Linked DNA regions of Homo sapiens: region 2 is linked to region 1. Evidence: fine-mapped expression QTL. A gene starts in region 1. The other region holds a variant in brackets. All regions are shown on one strand. Distances are from middle to middle. Region 1 holds the start of PCAT6 (prostate cancer associated transcript 6). Region 2 overlaps KDM5B (lysine demethylase 5B).

Region 1 (2,915 bases):
CTCCCAATCCCCGTGGGCAGGGCTGGCAGCACCGTGGGAATGTTCCACTTGTCAGCGCCTGACCCCCACAAGGGTCTAGCCCTTTGAGCCCCACACCCAGGTAAACCAAAGCCCAGGACTGAGGGTGCAGTTACCCTGGATCTCAGTTGGGCTGAGTCATCAGAGAGGGATTCCAGGACAGGAGAGGAAGAGCAGATGGGAGGAGGAAGAGGTATTTATTAGTTACCAGGTGGCTCCCAGGACCCAGACCCAGCTTCCCAAGAACAGAAACCCAGAAATGAGCGCCTGGTCAAGGTGTAAGCTGTTCCCCAAGGGCAGCCCCGACAGCTGGGGCTAAAGCAGAACAGTGAGCACAGAAGTCCACCATAAGGGACCAGCTCAGCAGTAGACGATAGCATAGGAGGGGTTGCTGGTTCCCGGGAATTAAGCAGGGCAGGGAATGGGGGAGGATGGGTTTATCTCACCTGTGGTGCCCACCCATTGTGGAGGCTCCCTCAACACCGTTCTGAGCCTCCTTCCTGCTTCATGTGGTCAACCAGATTCTTCTTTGTCCAGCCCAAAGCTCCATCCTCAGCCAATGGTAGCCACAGAAACTCAAGGCCATTTACCCTCCCTTTCAACAAATATTTGTGGAGCGTGTGCCACGTGCCTGGTGCCAAGGAGAGAGACATTACTTCTTCCCTCTAGAGGCTTACAATCTGGCAGGAGAGGAATATGTATGGGGAGAGTGCAGGGACACCGCGGAAAAAAGACAAATACTGAGTTATAAGTGTTGTAATAGGGGGTAGTAACAAGACGTTGTAGGACTACACAAAATAAAACAAGGAGGCCAAATCGCAAGCGTTTGTGGGTTTCACAGGGGACATCTGACAGCAAACATTCCAGGGCACCGAGAGATGGTGAGGAGAGATGATGGCATTGAATTGGAGAGATGAGCTGAGATGGACTGCGCAGAGGACGAGGGAAAGCCGGTGCACTGGAGACTGGGGGAGACGAGAGGATCCACCGGGTTGGGAGGGGAAGGGTGGTGGTAGAAGCACGAGCAAGGCAGAGACCGGAGGCCAGGGCGGAAGGGAGGCTCACGGACACCTGGAGCCCTGAAAAGTTGTCAGAGGCGGCGAGGGGGTGGGGAGCGGACCCTACACGTGCGCTACGTGCTGCGCCGGCCGCTGGGGAGCCCGGTCTGCCCCCCTCATCCCAGAACCCGGTCCCAGGGCAGTTGCACGGCGCCCAGGGGGAGGGGAGGGAGGAAGTCCCCCCAAGTTTGCAACCCGGCAGCGTGGTCTTCGCAACGCGGTTACCGGAAGGAACGCGAGGAGCGCCTCATCACCAGGCGGGTGTATCTAGGGGCGAAGGCTGCAGATCTGGGGCGCAGGCTGGAAAGTGGGGTGCAGCCGGTTGACGTGAGGTCTGGGAGTTGGATGGACCGAATGAGGATGGAGACACCTAGGGATGTGTCCGAAGGATCTGGCGCTGCACAAATGAGGGCGGTTTGGGGGACGGAGGCCCGGGCGGGGGCGGAGTGTTGTCCAAGAGTAAGGAGGGGGTTCCTGGAGACGTGGCACTCGGAGCGGGGCTGGGTTCCGCTCCGGCCGCCTGGGCTGCAGCTCCGCTATGGCCTAGGAACCCGAACCTGACCCCGCCTAGGCCTCGCACCCAGCCCTCTGGGAGCTCCGGCCCCGGCACCTCCAGGCTGGGGTTGCCCAGGTCCGGCCTCTGGGGCGTCCAGCCGGCCCTAGACGAGACAATGCGGCCCGGGCCCCGCCCCCGGAGGATGACGCGCCCGGCTGCCGGCCAGTCAGCGCCCGTGGCTAGGCTCTTTAAAAAAAGAAGGGCCGGCGCGGTGTGGCTGTCAGCTGGGAGGGATCCCTCCGCCCATGTAAACATCATAAAGGGCAAGGGGAGCGTCTGTTGTGGGCGGGGGAGCGGCTGCCTTCCCGGAGAGTCCTCTCGGTCCCTAGGTTCCCCTCAAGACGCCGGCAACCGCCCCGTCCCTTAACGTCACACCGGGTCTGCTGGGAGCCAAACAGCTGCGGCCTGATCTGGGAGCGATAGAATCTCATCACTTAGGGTCACTACCGGAAATGGAGGAAGCCGGACTGGGAGACCTTGAGAGTTGGGAGCGAGAGGGAATCGTAGGACGCAGCTGAGAATTGGGAAAGATTTTCTTAGGCTTGTTCTTCCTGTCCATCTCAGTTAAATAATAATCATAACTCATGTAAGTCTAGAATTTGTCTCAAAGTTATGCCTACCTGGCTCGTAGGATGCCAACGTTAGGAGTGAAAATAGTCAACGCTCTCCCGAGAGAGCACATGACACTACATGAGCTTCATCAAGACCCTCGGAGGCCCAGAATGCGCACCAAAGAGCCATCGACGATAATTCTTCTACCCAACTTTTATTTAGTATTATTAAATATTCAGTAAAGTTAAAAGAAATTTGCATCAAATTCCTCTATACCCACTACCTAGATTCTATTATAACTTGCCACATCGCATATCTATCTTGCACTGATAATTCTTTTAATAGTGTATTAGCTGTCCCCTGGGCTTGACTCTCCATTGCAGTAGGGAGCAGGAAAAGACTCCAGGTCCCAAAGCCCTGGAGAGCTAAGAAAAGGAATACGTTCTCCCAGGACCACTGTGAACTCTTTCCTGGGCCCGGTACCTCTGGGAAAAATTTGTTGAAGGGAAGGCGGTTTTCTTCTCCCCCCACGCCCATCCCCCCTTTTAATTGAAGACTTCTTAAGCATAAGAGATTTCCTTCCACTAGGTGAATCTGAAAGCGAACTAAGATCTTGACAAACATTCCTTGCATACGTTTGGCAGCTTTCTGGATGAAAGAGGTCATTTCAATGTTGACGTTCTACTTTTTGAGCTTCCTCCTTTTTTCTGAGGCTGCTGGACACTACCCCC
Region 2 (2,915 bases), 35 kb after region 1:
CCAGGCTCAGTGGCTCACACTTGTAATCTCAGCACTTTGGGAGGCAAAGGTGGGAGGATCATTGGAGCTGTAGAGTTCGAGACTGATCTGGGCAATACATGTACCTACACCTCGTCTCTAAAAAAAACCTTAAACAATTAGCTGAGTGTGGTAGTGTTCACCTGTGGTCCCAGATACTTGGGAGGCTGAGGTGGAAGATCGCTTGAGCTCAGGAGGCAGAGGTTTCCACCAGCTGTGATCACACCACTGCACTTAAGCCTGGGCAACAGAGTGAAACCTTATCTCAAAAAAAAAAAATTAAAAAAGTTAATGTGACTGGAAGGTTAAATGTGTTTTTTAAAGTTATAGACATATAGCTGTTATATAAAAAATGAGGTATGTCTATGGTAATACAGAAGTCAAAGTGTCTTTTGCCTAAATGAGTGTTTTTTTTTTTTTTTTTTTTACAGGCTCAATGACATTGCTCAGTGGGAAGGTTTGTGGGGAGAGGTGTATATGTGATATATCATTTATTTGGGAAAGGGTGTTCATACATATTTTGCTGCTCTCATGGACAAAAGGTTGAGAAACCACTACTCTGTGTTCTATTTTGTTTGATTGGTTAGAATAAGATTTACCTAACCTGGGTTTTAATTTTAAAACAAATTTTTGAATGTCAAATGCTTATAAGTTATTCTAATAAGAGCCTTTGCTTTCTCCTAGGATTGGCAGCCACCATTTGCATGTGATGTTGATAAACTTCATTTTACGCCACGTATCCAGAGACTGAATGAATTGGAGGTAATGTCTTCACTATTGTTCTGTTTGCCTGTATTCCAGGGGGACCGTCTTTGAAATTATTACGATATATTAAAATTGTTACAGAATCACCATTGTAAATCTGTTTTTAGATTTGTATTTGAGCAAATAAGAACATTTCTTTCTGTAGAGAACAGGTCTTTAAAATATCGAATTGGCTAGGCATGGTGGCTCACACTTGTAATCTCAGCACTTTGGGAGGCTGGGGCAGGAGGGTTGGCCTGGGCAACATAGCGGGACCCTGTCTCTGCTAAAACATAGTTTAAAAAATTAGCCACGTGTGATGGTGTGTGCCTGTAGTTCCAGCTACTCGGGAGGCTGAGGTGGGTGGATTGCTTCAGCCTGGGAGGTCAAGACTGTAGTGAGCCATGGTTGTGCCACTGCACTCTGCACTCCAGCCTGGGCGACAGAGCAAGACCCTGTATTTTATATATATATATAT[T/ATT]TACATATGTGAAGATACACACACACAGAATTGTGTTTTTGTTGTAGGGTTGAGGTCTCCCTATGTTGCCCAGGCTGGTCTCAAACTCCTGGGCTGAAGCGATCCTCCTGCCTCTGCCTCCCAAAGCTGGGCATATAAAAGCATATTTACTTGCCATATAATTTTAAACACTTATATGGAATTGTGCTTACAGTACTAATTAAGTTCCTTTCAGAGTGCCTGCTTACATCACAGGAAGGTTTACTGAGTGTTTAATTCTTTGTCTGTCACGTGGTAGGGGCTGAATTAAATTTTTTAAAAAAGTCAATTAAAATTTTTACTTTTTTTGTTATGGAGTCCCGCTCTGTCACCCAGGGTGGAGTGCAGCAGCATTATCCTGGTTCACTGCAACCTCTGCCTCCTGGGTTCAAGTCATTCTCCTGCCTCAGCCTCCCAAGTAGCTGGGATTACAGGTGTGTGCCACCAAGCCTGGCTAATTTTGGTATTTTTAGTAGAGATGGGGTTTCACCATTTTGGCCAGGCTGGTCTTGAAATCCTGACCTCAGGTGATCTGCCTGCCTTGGCCTCCCAAAGTGTTGGGATTACAGGCATGAGCCACCATGCCCAGCCTGAATTAAATTTTTGTTGAGTTAATGTATGTGTGTGTATATATTATATATATATATATATATATATATTTTTTTTTTTTTTTTTTTTTTTTGAGACAAGAGTCTTGTTCTGTCACCAAGGCTGGAGTGCAGTGGCACAATCTCAGCTCACTGCAACCTCTGCCTCTTAGGTTCAAGTGATTCTCCTGCCTCGGCCTCCTGAGTAGTTGGCATTACAGACGTATACCACCACATCCAGCTAATTTTTGTATTTTTAGTAGAGATGGGGTTTCACCATGTTGGCCAGGCTGGTCTCAAACTCCTGGCCTCAAGTGATCTGCCCATTTTGGCCTCCCAAAGTGCTGGGATTACAGGTGTGAGCTACCACACCCGACCATGTATAATTATTATTTTTTTATTTTTCTTTTTTATTGAGACAGAGTCTTGCACTGTCACCTGGGCTGGAGTGCAGTAGCATGATCTTTGCTCACTGCAACCTCCACCTCCCAGGTTCAAGTGATTTTCCTGCCTCAGCCTCCTGAGTAGCTGGGATTACAGGCCCCTGCCACTACGCCCAGCTAATTTTTTGTATTTTTAGTAGAGACGGAGTTTCACCATGTTGCCCAGGCTGGTCTCGAACTCCTGACCTCGTGATTCACCCGTCTCGGCCTCCCAAAGTGCTGGGATTACAGCCATGAGCCACTGCACCCAGTCGTATAATTATTATTATTTTGAGACAGAGTCTTACTGTCTCATCCAGGCTGGAGTACAGTGGTGTGATCTCAGCTTACTGCAACCTCTGCCTCCTGAGTTCAAGCAATTCTCCTGCCTCAGCCTCCTGAGTAGCTGGGATTACAGGCACGCGCCACCACACTAGGCTGATTTTTGTTAATAGAGATGGGGGGTTTCATCATGTTGGCCAGGCTGGTCTCGAACTCCCGACCTTGTGATTCGCTCGCCTCAGCCTCCCAAAGTGCTGGGATTACAGACGTGAGCCACCGTGCCCGGCCGGCCATGTATAATTATTTAACCAGCTTTATTTTGTGTATTTTTGGCCGTTTCTCACTGAATTTAGAAAGTGGTATTAT

The links. PIP is the estimated chance that this variant, and not a neighbour inherited with it, causes the effect.
Region 2: its variant is the best candidate, but not a certain one, in a credible set for the expression of PCAT6 in whole blood (TOPMed, PIP 0.51).

The regions. Positions count from the first base shown.
Region 1 is chr1:202,809,757-202,812,671 of GRCh38, reverse strand. It overlaps PCAT6 (prostate cancer associated transcript 6), which reads right to left and starts at 1,718. Exons shown (of 2, transcript NR_046325.2): 1 at 1,302-1,718; 2 at 760-1,097. LOC124904583 reads left to right here. Exons shown (of 3, transcript XM_047439549.1): 3 at 1,113-2,434. The coding sequence ends at 1,637. RefSeq lists a silencer at 1,622-1,851.
Region 2 is chr1:202,774,882-202,777,796 of GRCh38, reverse strand. KDM5B (lysine demethylase 5B) reads left to right here. Exons shown (of 27, transcript NM_006618.5): 2 at 703-780. Among named protein-coding and RNA genes, the nearest start is that of KDM5B, 32 kb to the left of the region's middle. The variant T/ATT (reference allele first, on the strand shown) is at 1,241.